4 linked regions of the Homo sapiens genome follow. The protein of the gene in region 4 purifies or fractionates together with the protein of the main gene of each other region. This does not show direct contact. Each region holds a gene or a part of one and is shown on either strand. Other genes may lie near its edges.

What was found. Proteins that work in one complex are often made in the same cells at the same time.
Region 1: the proteins of TMEM63A (region 4) and ATP11C purify together in Homo sapiens (affinity purification with mass spectrometry; 2 studies listed by BioGRID and IntAct, with this or other methods). This does not show direct contact.
Region 2: the proteins of TMEM63A (region 4) and SLC75A1 purify together in Homo sapiens (affinity purification with mass spectrometry; 2 studies listed by BioGRID and IntAct, with this or other methods). This does not show direct contact.
Region 3: the proteins of TMEM63A (region 4) and ALG5 purify together in Homo sapiens (affinity purification with mass spectrometry; 2 studies listed by BioGRID and IntAct, with this or other methods). This does not show direct contact.

The regions. Positions count from the first base shown.
Region 1 is NC_000023.11:139,923,054-139,926,553, forward strand, and holds part of ATP11C (phospholipid-transporting ATPase IG), read right to left. Parts: intron 1,179-3,500; exon of another isoform or gene 1,095-1,178; intron 1-1,094. UniProt on the Homo sapiens protein: Catalytic component of a P4-ATPase flippase complex which catalyzes the hydrolysis of ATP coupled to the transport of aminophospholipids, phosphatidylserines (PS) and phosphatidylethanolamines (PE), from the outer to the inner leaflet of the plasma membrane.
Region 2 is NC_000004.12:2,932,026-2,936,307, forward strand, and holds the start of SLC75A1 (major facilitator superfamily domain-containing protein 10), read right to left. Parts: upstream 2,801-4,282; 5' UTR 2,744-2,800; intron 2,163-2,743; exon of another isoform or gene 1,920-2,162; 5' UTR 1,899-1,919; coding exon 1,728-1,898; intron 1,639-1,727; coding exon 1,542-1,638; intron 1,185-1,541; coding exon 1,081-1,184; intron 734-1,080; coding exon 575-733; intron 488-574; coding exon 326-487; intron 129-325; coding exon 20-128; intron 1-19. UniProt on the Homo sapiens protein: Probable organic anion transporter which may serve as a transporter for some non-steroidal anti-inflammatory drugs (NSAIDs) as well as other organic anions across the luminal membranes of renal proximal tubules at the final excretion step into the urine.
Region 3 is NC_000013.11:36,961,341-36,964,840, forward strand, and holds part of ALG5 (dolichyl-phosphate beta-glucosyltransferase), read right to left. Parts: intron 1-3,500. UniProt on the Homo sapiens protein: Dolichyl-phosphate beta-glucosyltransferase that operates in the biosynthetic pathway of dolichol-linked oligosaccharides, the glycan precursors employed in protein asparagine (N)-glycosylation.
Region 4 is NC_000001.11:225,875,881-225,879,380, reverse strand, and holds part of TMEM63A (mechanosensitive cation channel TMEM63A), read left to right. Parts: 5' UTR 1-161; intron 162-1,786; 5' UTR 1,787-1,800; coding exon 1,801-1,986; intron 1,987-3,500. UniProt on the Homo sapiens protein: Mechanosensitive cation channel with low conductance and high activation threshold. In contrast to TMEM63B, does not show phospholipid scramblase activity. Acts as a regulator of lysosomal morphology by mediating lysosomal mechanosensitivity.

The DNA.
Region 1 (3,500 bases), on a different chromosome or scaffold from region 4:
GGGATTACAGGCGTGAGCCACTGAGCCCCACCTGTTATACTTTTTTTTATAACAGCTCAAACTCATTTGGGGTTGGCATGTATGTTCTCTAAATTGACTGGTTCCCATGCTTTAAGTACAACAATGACCCTGCACCATTGCTCAGGTAATTGCCTCCTCCTGTAATGAGACTGCCCATCCCTAAAATCTCAGAACCTTCAGCCCTTTGGGTCCCCAGAGGCCCAGTTGACAGGCTACTTCCTCCATAAAGCTCTCCCCAAGAAATGAAGCCAGAGAGCCAGTGCCTCCTTCTGAATGCCTACTGCACTTACTGTGTATGTCCTTCAAAAGGATGGCTCTGGTGACCTACTGGCCTTGTGTGGAGGATGGTCCTGTGTGCTGGTCTTCTCTCTCTTCTACCAAACTGCAGGCTACTGGTGAGCAGGGCTGTACCTTACACACCTCTACAGCACCAAATAGGGGATGAGTGTTCCAAGAAAGCTGTGATTCACATGAATGTTTTCAGAAAAGAAGCCAGAATAAATTGTACACTATACTATAGATCCCTTAATCCTTATTACTGCAAAATACATTAATTGTGAAGCTTAAAGAACGTCCCCACTGCTTACACAACAGGTGTAGCTTACATAATCTGCTCTACCCAGCTGTTACTTACTTGTGGCAATTCCCTCCTGGCTTCTACTCCCTGTCGATATGTGGGATTACTGCACCATCCAGTATGATTTCCTTATTCCTTGCTCCAATCATAACAAATTTGTTAATTTTCCTTTATAACAGTAAAAATGGCTGAAACTCCAAATAACCAGAGATATCCCTAGGGTTTTCCATGACTATAAAACTCAAAAGACAATCCAGGATATAAACCAATATTTGTAAATATTGCCATAAAATTCATTGCTCAGAATTTTTTTTTTCCTATATAGTCTTCTTTGACAAAATACTGCAGTATTCCCACCATTTGGAAATTGTGTTACCCAAAAGGTATAGAATGGGATGAAGTGATGATGCAAATGAGTATTAGGACTATGAGCAAATGAATGGGAGCAGTAACAAAAGTCCAAAAGTCAGGAAAAATGAAAATCCACGAACTTGGCGATGCTCCAGAGAGGAAACCAGCAAGTGTTGACGCTAAACTGGCAGAAACATCAATACTTCCTGGCTCCCCCACTGGGTGCATCAATTTACCACCGGCAGGCTGCTCTTCTGCTTCAAGTGACAAACAGTAAGTGCTTTCAATGACAGTATGAAAAGGAATGACCCATAATCTAGAAGCATGGCTATGGGCAGCAAAGAAAAGATGTGATTGCTGGGAGTCTGTCTCAGCTGTACTGCTGATTAGCTTAATGATCTTGGACAAGTCATTTCCTTTCACTGAAAAAATACCAGTGTTTCACAATATTTGCGTGATGGAAAGAGTTAACATAGCAGGCCTGACACTGCTATTCTTAGTAAGGCCTGTTTGCAAGGTTGGTCCTTGGCTGGTGTCTGGGGACTTGGATTTTGGGAGGGTTTCCATCACCCTGATAAGAGTGGCTCACTCTGCTTAAGCTGTGTAAACAATAGGGTTTACACTGAATACCTGCTTTCCTCCTTGGGGTCTGGAATTTTGCTGTGTACCAGGTGGAGGGTGCCTGTGTGACCAGCTCCCACTAAAAACCCTGGGTACTGAATCTCTAATAAGCTTCCCTAGTAGACATTTCACACAAGTTGTCAAAACTCATTTGCTAGAGGAATTAAGCATGACCTGTGTGATTTCAGTGAAAGAGGACTGGAAGCTTGCACATGGTTTCCTCCAGACTTGGCCCCAATGAGCCTTTTCCCGTTACTGACTTTGCTCTGTATCCTTTTGCTATAATAAATCACATCCGCAAGCGTTTCTATGTACTGAGTTCTGCCAGTGAATCAACAAACCTAGGCCGGTTTTGAGGACCTCTGTCACAATTGGTATAGTGTTGAATAGTCTACCAAACGTTTTTTTCAACAGTCTTGTGAAATAGGTATTATTATTCCCATTCTATCGATGAAGAAACTGAAGTTCAAAAAGGTGAACAGAGAGTGTGCCCAGAAAATAAATATTTCCGTGTTTACTATATTATATATTGCTGTTCTCAAATTTTAGTGAACCTAAGAACCACTTGGAATGCTTGTTAAAAACAGTTTCTTGGAGTCTGTCACCCAAGACTTGGATTCAGTAAGTTCAAGGCCCAGGAATCTGTATTTATAGTAAGCATACAGGATTATTATTATTTGAGATGGAGTTTTGCTCTTGTTGCCCAGGCTGGAGTGCAATGGCACGATCTCGGCTCAGTGCAACCTCTGCCTCCCAGGTTCAAGTGATTCTCCCGCCTCAGCCTCTCAAGTAGCTGGGATTACAGGCCTGTGCTACCACTCCTGGCTAATTTTGTAGCCCAGTCTGAAATGCATAAGCTTCTTGGTGGCTGCTTCCTAAACTGATCATTCTTCATCTGTTATTACTGACTCAGACTGTGTTACCAATTCAGCTCAAAACAATTAAACAAGTATTAATTGAACATCTACTGTTTACCTGATGCTGTGCTAACTGCAAGATCATTTTCAAGAACACTTCTGATTTTTCCAAGAATACCTTGGTAAAGAGAAAGGGACTAGGAAAACATTGCCACATTAATACTTTATGACAACATATAATAGAGACGTCTAAAAAACAAATGATGATATCTGCTTGAACAGCAATATCATCAACATCACCAATCCTCCCATATTCCATTAAATACATATGGCACAAGAAATCAATGATTTCTACTTCACAAATACAGGTTAACCTTCTAAATCTGGAAATCCACGGTCCATTATCATTTATAAATCACATCTTCTATTATCAAGAAGTCAGCCGACCCAGTAATCCGTCCATACACTGCAATAATTGAGGGGCTGTCTGCCAATGTGTGGGCATAGGGCATCCTGTGCCCATATCTGCAGTGCTGAGCACTCATTCATCATTAAGCTGCAGCAGTGTTAACATATGCTGCAGTTGTGCCAGTATGTTTTGTTTTACGATCACCGCTAATCTACCCTTATACCAGGCCAAGAAGGTAAATGTTAAGTGAAAGGAAATAAACTCGAGAGCCAGCACCTAATTCATTTGTGGAAGCCCAGAACCTCCCTCCACCTAACCAGAAAAACTCCCCCAGTCTCGAGGGTTCCAGATGTAAAAGGTTCATCTGTATAAAGCACTACAGATGTACAGGAAATTCCACCACCTTGAAGAAAAAAATAGTATTTTTTTTTTATATCCCATGCATTCACCCTCTTTGAGAGAACTGAATAACCATGTTAGACAAGCAATGAGCCTTGATTTTTTCCATCACTCAACAAACCAGTATTTGATTTCACTCAGTGGGCTAGTTCTTTGCACATCATGCAGACACAGCAAGGTTAGTTATGGTTCTTTCAGGGGCCACTGGCCATCCTTTACCTCCTAGAACCCACTGCTCAGCAGGTGGTAAACTGGCAGCTTTTTG
Region 2 (4,282 bases), on a different chromosome or scaffold from region 4:
GGGTTGGTCGAGTCCTTACTGTCTCCAGAGGGTGGGTCCTGGCCACGAGCGACAGCCGAGAAGCGCAGCAGGGCCAGGGGGCTGAGCAGATCAGCCGCATCACGGAACCCCAGGGCGATAGAGGGCGCCTGTGGGGATGGCATTGGAGAGCCTGCAGGAGCGGCTGCTGGCCTGGCAACCCACGGACTGTGGCCTCAAGGGTCCCAACACCAAGAGAGCGGCCCAGCCTCCCTGGCATCTGGGGCTGGCACACAGGGGCACTTTACATCGCTATGGAATCAAGCCTCCAGCCCCTAGGCCTGTGGGTCCCAGACCACAGCCCTACCCGTTTCTCCAGGGGCAGCGTCTCTGGCAGGAAGCAGAAGATGAACAGCAGGTCGGAGGCTGCGAAGAGCAGGGCAAACCAGGGTGCCATTTCCAGGGGCAGGGAGGCTCCGAGCATAGGGCCCAGGGTGAAGCCCAGTGAGAAGGCCACCCCAATGACCGCCTAGGGAAAAGACCACCCGAGCTGCACAGGGAGACCCAGGCCCAGAAGTCACCACCAGGACCCCAAAGGCCCAGCCTGTGCACTTACCATGCCTTGACTGCGGGCCAGAGGCGAGCCCAGGTCAGCAACGATGGCCGTGGAGAGGCTGACGTTCCCTTTGCTGATGCCCCCAATCAGCCTGGAGGCCAGGAAGGCCGCAAAGCTCCGAGAGGTGGCCCAGACTGCATATGAGGTGGCCACACCCATCTGCCCAGGGGCAGGGGCCAAGAGGCAGGGGCGGTCGCTTAAGGCCAGGAGTGGCTCAGAGTAGGGCTTGGCAACCCAGACAACACCCCTCAACCCTGCCCTATTTCGAAGCATCTGAGGGCCACTTGCGTTCTCAGTGCCTTCCTAGGGGCCAGGAGCAGCTCCTTGAAAGCCTGGCTCTGGAACAGGAGCCACTGGTCCCCCGAGAACCCCCTCCAGGATGCGATGAGGGCCAACCAGTGGCCATGAGGGGCCCACAGCCACCTCCCTCTCCCCACCTAACCCCATGGGGCTACTGGCTGGGTGGGAGGAGGCTTCCCCATGGGCACCCAGGCCCAGGAACATACCAGGCACAGCAGCATCACCGGGCGCCTCCCCAAGCAGTCAGAGGTGGCCCCAGTGAGTGGCGCACACAGAAACTGCAGGACAGAGAATGCCGAGCCAATGAGACCTGAGAGACAGATGTCACCATCATGGGGCTGCCTGGCACCATGAGCTGTGGTCTTGGGGCCCTCAAGGCCAATGTCCAGCCCCGTCCTGAGGGTCCAGTCATGCTGGGCCCTACACTCACAGGCCATGGCCCTTGAGCCGAGGGGGCCCCAATGGAGAGATGAGGAAGGATCTGAACGTGACACGCGGAGGCAAGGGATCATGCCCAGAAGCCAGGACATGTGGGCAAGGGCACCAGACATGCCAGCCCAGGGAGTGGGAAGGCAAGGACCGAGAATTGGGGAGGGGCCTGGGCTGGACCACGTCCACCAAACATAGGACCGTAGAGAGCCCGCCAAGGGCACAGAGCCAGCCATACCTCCGAACAGGACACTGTTGTACCTCTTCTCCACTGGCATCCCGATGGCGGTGGCAAACCAGTCCACCCCGCCCTGCCAGGAGCCATAGAGGGGGTCCTAGGGGATGAGGAATCACGATAAGGGCTGGGGAGGTCTGATGGGCCTGGGGGGCAGGGGGCACTGTGGGCCGCAGGGCAAGGACTCACGTGGGCACGGCCGTGGCTCTCCAACAGCCCGGGCAGCAGGGGCAGCAGCAGCGTGAAGGCCAGGAGGTCCAGCAGGAGGCCGAGAAAGACAACGGTGACCACGCGGCGCTCCGGCGGCTGCTGGTGGATGGGTGGGCGCGGGGTGCAGCCTCCACCCCCTCCCCATCCCATGGTGGGCTGCTCTGACCTGGCCTGGGTGGGGTGCGGCGGGTCGGGTTAGCGGGGAAGCCGAGTCCTCCGGGGCCTGGCATACCCCCACACCCGACAGCCGGCGAGCACCCTAAAGGGGCTGATGGCAGGGGCTCTGGCCTACGGACGCAGGGGCCGTTCTGGCCTGCGCGATGCCCCCGCCCCGAACCCAGGCAGCAGGAAACGCAGGCTTCGGGGATTGCACAAAAAATAGCCGCAAAGGCAACGGTCCTGAGAGACCAGGGTGAGCACATCGCGGACCTGGCCCCACCCCACCCCACGGCCGCGCCTCCCACGCCCTCGTAACAGCGAGAGAAAACTTGAAGCCGCGGGGAACCCGGATCCCGATCCCGATCCCGATCCCGATCCCAACCCCAACCCCAGCCCCGGCCCGCGCCCCGCGATTCCGGCCCCTGGCCCGGACTCGGTCTCCCTGGCGGGGGCCATGGGGTGCACACCGGACGCAGGAGCACCCCCAACCCCGCGCGCCTCCCACTCCGCCATCCCGCGTGCGTCCCGGTCCCGCCCCCACCCCGCGCGCCCCCGGTCCCGCCCCCCACCCTGCGCGTCCCCGGTCCCGTCCCCCACCCTGCGCGCCCTCTAACCCCCACGCCGCGCGCCTCCCACCGCCCCCACCCCGCGCGCCCCTGGTCCAGCCCCACACCCCGCGCGCCCCCTACTCCCCTACCCTGCGCACCTCTCACCCGCCCCACCCCCGCGTACCCCGGGTCCCGTCTCCTCCCCCACCCCGCGCGTCCCCTGTCCCACCCCCAACCCGAGCGCCCCCTACGCCCCCCACCCCGGGCGCCCCCGGTCCCGCCCCGCACCTGCCGCGGCTGCGCGCTCGGGACGGACGGTCGCACAGACGCGGAACAGGGCACCAGGCACGCCGCCAGGGGCGGGACGGCCACGCCCGGCCACGCCACGCCCCGGAAGTGACGTACATCTCTGCACGTTCTCTTCCGGCCGGAGTCAGTGGCGGGGTTCTCGCCGGTCCTGCGGGTCGCTGCTTGGCTGTGGGTTAGCAGCACCCTGAGCGGAGCGGAAGAGCTGCCCGCCGCCGCGTAACCCCGAGGCCGAGACTCCTGGCCTGGCCTCCTTGGGCCCACGACGCCTGCCCCGCGGAGCGGACCCATGGGCCTGAGGTTTGTGTGCGGGGCCTCAGGCGAGCGCTGGCGCAGCCTGTCCCCCATCGTCTGCGCCCTGCGGGCCTGGCCCTCCCCGTGGAAGGACCGCGGGCTTCGGGGCCCCACGCTGGGGGGCTGACTCCTGCCACACACACAGCGGTGGCCGCGGGCCTGGGGCGGCAGCACAGCCATTCTGCTCGGGCTGCGTGAGCTGACCCCGCTCTCTGTGCACCTACTTTTGCTGCGTTTGGTGCTGAGCCTGAAGTCCCAGGACAGGCGGCTGAGGGGGAAAGATGGTGTGAATTGGGTGGGCAGAGACAACTGAAAGCCACAGGACCCGGTTGGCACCTTTTTGGCCGCCTGCGCCTTTGCCTGCAGCCCCGCTCCCTGGGTCACCCGAAGGAGGAGCTGGCGCTCTTTCCGGGCGCAGAAGCACCCGACCCACGCTGGAGGAAACGGTCCCTCTGGGCAGGAGAAGCTTTGGGCCTGGCTGGAGCACACTCACGGAACCACGCCAACGCCTGGCCTGTAGCCAGCTCCCACCTCCCCTCCCACCTTCTAAAATGCTTGCGGATCTCACGTGGCCGACCCTAACCAGATACACATGGGGAAAGGAATCAGGTGGCACACATACCGCCTTTACTCCATAGAGAACTTCCAATTGTGGGTAAGAACAAAGCCCCACCTCTTCCTAATAGATGCAGTTTTCCACCTGCAGCCAAAAAGACAACCTGTTATTAGCTTTTTTCCCAGAGGACAGGCATCTCTATGAAACTGCCATTGCAAAATTTGCCGACAGTGAGATAACCAGCTCCATTTTGCTTCTAACCTCCATGCCCTCCTTGTTTACTGCTGCACGCAGGTTGAACTGTGGGAGGAACTTAGTTTAAAACAAAGATGATAACAGCCCTTTCCCAAAGGAAACCTTTCCTGGGGATTAGCCTGCTTTTGTGGGACCAACAGATTAGCCACAAGATTAGAAACTACGGTTGAAGAGTCACGCAGCGGGAGGCTACAGGATTCTGACCCTCCCCAAACTGCTCCTGGCGATAACATCACCATCGTAAAGCCTAAGATCAGCACTTGGTGGGTCACCTGGCACCACCCAGGCTCATCTGATGTTGTGGCACCCAGGAACTGACTCAGTGCGAAAACAGCTTCGACTCCCTGTGATTTCATCTCTGACCTGACCAATGGGTACTTCTGACTCACTGGCTGCCCCCCACCCACCAGCTTATC
Region 3 (3,500 bases), on a different chromosome or scaffold from region 4:
GAAGGCAGAGGCTGCAGTGAGCCATGTTCACTCCAGCCTGAGTGACATGAGACCCTGTCTCCAAAACACTAACAACAAAAAACAAACACATACTATTTACATAGCACTTACCTTGTATGAGGTATAAGTAACCTAGAGATGATTTAAAGTATATGAGAGTATGTGCATAGGTTATATGCAAAGAGTACACCATTTTATAGCAAAGACTTGAGCATCTGTACAGATTTTGGTATCTGTGGGTGATGTTCCTAGAATTCATTTACTGTGGATACCAAGAGACAACTGTATATATATGTATCTGAATTTGAAGGCCAAATTTACATTACTTAAAATTTTTTAATCTATTTTTGTTTTTAACATACCCATTTAATTTATATTAATATTTGAATATATATACTTAACATACCTATACTCAACTCTGCAGTTCTGAATCCAAAGAGATACTGAGAGTCTTTTTTTGAGACAGAGTTTCACTCTGTCACCCAGACTGGAGTGCAGTGGCGTGATCTCGGCTCACTGCAACCTCTGCCTCCTGGGTTCAAGCAATTCTCCTGCCTCGGCCTCCCAAGTAGCTGGGATTACAGGTGCCTACCACCACGCTTGGCTAATTTTTAAAAATGTATTTTTAGTAAAGACGAGGTTTCACCATTTTGGCCAGGCTGGTCTTGAACTCCTGACCTCAAGTGATCCACCCGCTTCGGCCTCCCAAAGTGCTGGGATTACAGGCGTGAGCCACTACGCCCAGCCGATACCAAAAGTCTTAATTTTAGGTATACTCCTTTACAGATTTCTAGTACCTAGAAACTCTATTTGATTTCGATTTCTTGAAAGTTCTGAGAAAAATTTCAATGAATCCTTAAGAAAAAATAGTCAAATGTCAAAGGTGACATTTGGAAATAAGGCATAGATATACAACTTGGTTTCTGTAACTTATATTGTTCTTTAGTCTTGATTTAAAGTGCAGGAACAAAGATGTTTAAATAAAAACCACTGATGACGTATTATTGTGGTGAAGGGTATACTGCTCATTAAGCTGATACATGTATACTTGGTGGTTCTCCTTTAGAGGCACCAAATAAACATAATGTACCCTAAAGAAAAATGTGAGCAGTTAAAATTTTAAGTGAGGTGAATCTTGTTTTTTCCCTAATAAAATTAAAACAAAAAACAAACCGAGACAGGTTTCACCATTGTTGCCCATGCTGGTTTCAAATTCCTGGACTCAAGCAATCCACCTGCCTCAGCCTCCCAAAGTGCTAGGATGACCACTGTAAGCCACCATCCCCAGCCACTAAGTGAGGTCAATCTTATGTCAATTAACACAAAATAAATAAAAGGCTTGCATGTAACATTAACACTAAAAAAAGAAAAAAACCCCATTAATGTTCTTTAACTTAACCCCACAAGAACTGCTGTCTAATACAACAGCCCCTCAGCACATGAGGATACTGAGCACTTGAAATGTGGCTAGTCTGAATTGAGATGTGCTGTAAATTTGAATATATAGTACAAAGAAAATAATGTAAAATAGTTCAACTTTTTTCATACTGATTGCATGGTGATATGACAATATCTTGGAAATATATTGGATAACAAGTAAATCTGATCAGCTTTTTACTTTTTTTAAGAGACAGGATTTACCCTGTTGCCCAGGCTAAAGTACAGTGGTGCAATCATAGCTCACTGCAGCCTAAACTGGGCTTATGAGATCCTCCTGCCTCAGTATCCTGAGTGGCTGGGACTACAGGCGTGCACACCACCACACCAAGCTAATTAAAAAAATTTTTTTTTCTGGAGACAGGGTCTTGCTATGTTTTCCAGGGTGGTCTTTAACTCCCGGCCTCAAGTGATCCTCCCCACCTTGGCCTCCCAAAGAACTGGGATTACAGGCATGAGCCATCTTTTTACTTTTTAAATGTGGCTAATAGAAAATTTGAAATTACATATATGCCTTGCCTCTTGTCTCATATTTCTATTAAACAATGCTGCCCTAGAACAATCCTGACAGGGAAGCTTCATGATTTTTAAGTTATCAATCCTAACCTTTTATATTTCAACAAAAATGAAAGATCCTCAACAACGAAAAATAGTATTCTCAATTTCTAAATTCTTCCTTTCAAACCACAAAGAACCTGCATCTCTGACCCTAGTTCTGGAGCAATAGCTGACTGAAAAATAGCTAATGCAGACAGAGGGCTTTACTTCTAGAGTCGTTTCTTAAATTAGATTTTCTGATTTCGAAGTCTATTAACTATGAGTTTATTTTATTTTTCAACATAATAAAAACACATATCTAAATTTGACAACTAATGTAGACTACTTAAAATGTTTTAATCTAGAAAAACAAGATTTTAAAAAGTCTGAATGATAATTCTGAAAATACATTTTTTAAAGTAGTATTTTGGGGGTTATATGGCATATATTTCTAGGAAGACAACAGGTCTTTGAAAACAGATGCACAAAAATTGTAGAGAGTATAAAAATGGACATATACTGGCATAATCATGCAGATACCCAACATGAACAGGATTCACACAGAACCCATGACTAAGTATTAGTTCTTTCAACAGTATTTACTGGGTACCTACTATGTGCTGGGCATGATATTAGATAGTGGGATATACTAATAAGTAAAATTAAATGTGACTCTTGCTCTCATGGAGAAAGATTATGCTTTAATCGAGAAAAAGAAACATTAAGTAATTACACAAATATAAGAAAAAACTACAAATGTCATAGGTGCTATGAATACAGCACATGGCACTGCAACAGGATATAATTAGGGGCACCCGAGCTAATTATATTATCTTTAGAGAGTGAGGGCAGGCTACCCTAAGGAAGATCTGAAGGAGAAGGTGAGAAGGGGCGTGGTTAGAAAAGAAAAGAGTCCGCATGTGGAGACACAGGTGGGGCCAGACTAAAGACCATGGGAAGCCCATGAAGGAATATAAGCAGAAGAGGTGCATATGATTGATCACACTTAAGTTTGCAAAGACCTTGTGGGCTACAGCATGGTAGTATGGAGAAGGATGGTGTTCTGGATGGCGGTGGTAGAGATGGAGAGAAATGGAGGAACACAAAAGCTAAAATCAACAGGCCCTGTCATGGATTGGATATATGCATGTGGAGAATGTCAGGGCTGATGTCAGGGTTTCAGCTTCTGTACAACAGTGCTAGCCACCTGTATCTCCAGTATATTTCAAAAGAGAGCTCAGGAGTATCAAATGCTGCTGATGGGTTAAGTGTGACAAGTGGTCATTTAACATGACCACTGGCTTCAATGACATAGAGGTGGCTAGATGTTAAGATGAAGTAGACTGGGTGCAGTGGCTCACGTCTGTAATCGCAGCACTTTGGGTGGATCACCTGAGGTCAGGAGTTCAAGACCAGCCTGGCCAACATGGTGAAACCTCATCTCTACTAAAAATACAAAAACTAGCTGGGTGTGGTAGCGCCCACCTGTAATCCCAGCTACTTGGGAGGCTGAGGCAGGAGAATCA
Region 4 (3,500 bases):
GCTGGTCAGGAAAGCCCTGCAGGACATGAGTGTTAGGCCCGACGCCTGGCCCTTGGCAGCTTGGGAGGTGGCTGGGGCTGCTTTTGCCTTTGCCAGAGACAGCTCCAACTGAGGACCTCTCCAACGGGCCCATCCACAGTCCTTCCTTCCCCTAGTGTCTGGTAAGTGTGGGGACAGGAAGGAGGAGGGGTAGGTGGTGGCCTTGAAGTGTTGGGCTGGTGTGTTCCATTGGGTGGTGCCACTGGGGGATTTTAAAGGGAAGCCAAGAACATCTGTGTTCCAGAGGTCACTCTTGTGACACTCTGTTCAGAGTCAGCAGCCCCATGACTCTGGCATCACAACCCCCACTACCTCCAGCCATTGCCAAGTCTCTTAGAAGGTTGAGAAAGTCACTTGGCTGTCTGTGGGATGCTCCCATGTTCTTGGGCTTTCCACTCATTCATGCTTCCTGTGCTTCGTGTGTGTGTGTGTGTGTGTGTGTGTGTGTGTGTGTGTAGGTAGGTAGGTAGGTAGGTAGGTGTCCATGTGTGATTGTCCCCAGCACTCTAGGCCTAGGGGTTACCCAACATACACACCTCACCAGCACTACTGGTATCCAAACATCTGTTTGGGTTCTCTATATCTTTTCTTCTTGTTCTCAAGATCTTTGTCCCTGTAACAGCTAGAAGCACCAGACTTAGCAGAAAAATCCCCTGGGAATTCTAGATTTACCAGATTTGGGCAGGTAGGATCTTAAGCAAGTCCAGGCTGAATATGTGTTCTGGCCCTTCAGCCACAGCATGAGAACTTGGACACTAACTCCCGGTCCTCTGGTGTCAGGGGACAGACACTGGAGATTTCTATTAGCTTCACCAGGGGCGCCAGGAGCCTCAGGAAGGAAAGGTCAACAACCCAGCCTGGAGCAGTGTTTGCTTTGGAAATGCTGGGCCTTGCAGTTAGACTGATGGTACCCAGGAGGGGTATGTGTGTGTGAAAGCGCAGAGCTAGGGGACCCAGAGGTCCCTGAGGAGGCCCTGGGACTCCTGACTCCCTCCCCGTCCCTACCCTAGACCACCCCCTTTACTTTCTCCTCTGTGGCAAAGTAAAAAGAGAAGTGGCATCTGAGAGTCAGGATATTGGGTTTGGGATTCAATTCTGCCCTGACCAGCTCCTTAACCTTAACTTTGGGGCAAGTTATTAAACCTCTGAGGCTTGGTTTCCAAGTATAGCAGATGGACCCATCTCTGAGGTCCCAGCTCTGACATTCTGTGAGCAGTGGGAGTGAGGTGTTGTCTGTGGCTCGTGGATGGACCATCGTGAATACTTGGATGTTCCCTTCTTCCCTGGTTGTTTATCCCGGTGTTTTCCTCTTCCTGCCTTTGTGTGCCTTTCTCCCTCTCCTCTGCCTGTACTCTAGATCCGCCAGTGGCTTCTGCAGGAGTGACTTTCCCAACACGAGTCCTCGAGGCTAGAGGAACTTTAGGACTTCTTAAGACAGCAGCTGCAGCAACTCTGTCCCTCCTTTGCTCCATGTCGCCCCCTCTGGGGATCTGCCCACTGTGTCCTGGATGAGCCATCCACTCTGACCATCTGATCCCCTGAGATTGTCCCACAATGCAGCCATTCTCTGTGGACACTGCCAGGCACGCAGAGGTCCAATGTCTGGCTCTCCCGGACTCCTTGCTGCTGGCTCACTGCCCGATCAGTCCCTGGGAAACGCCTGCCTTTGGCTCTGCCAGCACTGGTGGGAACCTGCAAGAAATTTGAGCCCTGAACGTCTGCCTTGTCCTGTTGTCCTGTGCTCCAGGGAAGACAGGCGCGATGATGGACTCCCCGTTCCTGGAGCTGTGGCAGTCCAAGGCAGTGTCCATCAGGGAGCAGCTGGGACTCGGGGACCGGCCCAACGACTCCTATTGCTACAACTCGGCCAAAAACAGCACCGTGCTCCAGGGGGTCACCTTTGGTGGCATCCCCACTGTCCTGCTCATAGACGTCAGCTGCTTCCTGGTGAGAGCCCTCATGAGTCGTGTCCCACTGCCTCAGTTATTTGTTTAAATGCCCCACCCAGGGCCTTCTGGGAAACTTAGATGAGAAGTCAGACATAGCTGGGTTTAAATCTCAACTCTGCTGCTTACCAGCTCTGTGACTTAGGCGTGTTACTTAGCTTCTGTGCACCTCCCCTTTCTGCTCCGGAAATGGAGATCATAATTCCTATCTCAGAGAATTTTGGAATTTGGATAAGGCCAGAATACTCATATAGCTATGCCTGTGATTACTACCGTGATTGCAGAGCTCTCAGCCTGTCGTATCTTTAAGGCCCTTGGGAAGGGTCATCTCAAGGGGTTGAGACATGTGACTGGAGAGTACGGACTAGAATAGAGCAGCTGCAGTTCCCAAGTGTCACCTCCTGTTCCCCTCTGGCATCCCTGGGGTTTTTAAAGAATCAGAAGCTGGGCCAGGTACGGTGGCTCATGCCTGTAATCTCAGCACTTTGGGAGGCTGAGGCGAGTAGATTGCCTGAGGTCAGGAGTTCGAGACCAGCCTGGCTAACATGGTGAAACCCTGTCTCTACTAAAAATACAAAAAATTAGCCGGGTGTGGTGGTCGGCGCCTGTAATCCCGGCTACTCTGGAGGCCGAGGCAGGAGAATTGCTTGAACCTGGGAGGCAGAGTTGCAATGAGCCGAGATCACGCCACTGCACTCCAGCCTGTGCAACAAGAGCGAGACGCTGTCTCAAAAAAAACCAAAAAAACAAAAAAAAGAATTAGAAGCTGATTCTTAGAGCGTACCTTCAGCAGGTGGCCTTTCTTTAACGTAGATCTCCTTGTTCACAAAGATGCCCCATGGCATTGTTCTTCCTTATGCAGACTCAACGTTGGCTGGCTGAGATTTATTGGGGTTAAAGTGCCCCTTCTTTTCACAAATGCCATGGGCTGGCCAGTGCCTCTTGATACTGTCTCCTAACATGTGGCAGAGACCATCTGAGTGAAGGGGGCAGATGGCTCTGATGGAGTAAACATCCTTGGACTGCTTGGAGCTGGAGACTAGGCTCGGGTGGGGAACATGGGGAGGGTGGCTTAGGGTAGCAAGGAGGAGTGGGCAGGGGTGTGGGGGTGGATTTCAGAATTGGTGGGATTAGAGGAGGGTGGCCTTGGGTCTTCAGGGTGGGGAGAGTTTGGCCAAGGTGAGGAGTACAGAGAGGGGGACCTGGGCAGGGACCCTAGCTGGGCTGGGTGGGTATTGTTGCAACAGTGTTGGCTGAGAAGAGAGTCACCCTCTATTGTGCTGCTGAAGGTGAATTTTTTTTTTTTTTTTTTTTTTTTTTTTTTTTTTTTTTGAGACAAGGTCTCACTGTCACCCAGGCTGAAGTACAGTGGCATAATCACAATTCACTGCGACTTCCTCCTCCTGGGCTCAAGCAATCCTCCCACCTCAGCCTCCTGCATAGCTGGGACTACAAGCACATGCCACCGTGTCTGGGTTATTTTTGTATTTTTGGTAGAGATGGGATTTCACACCA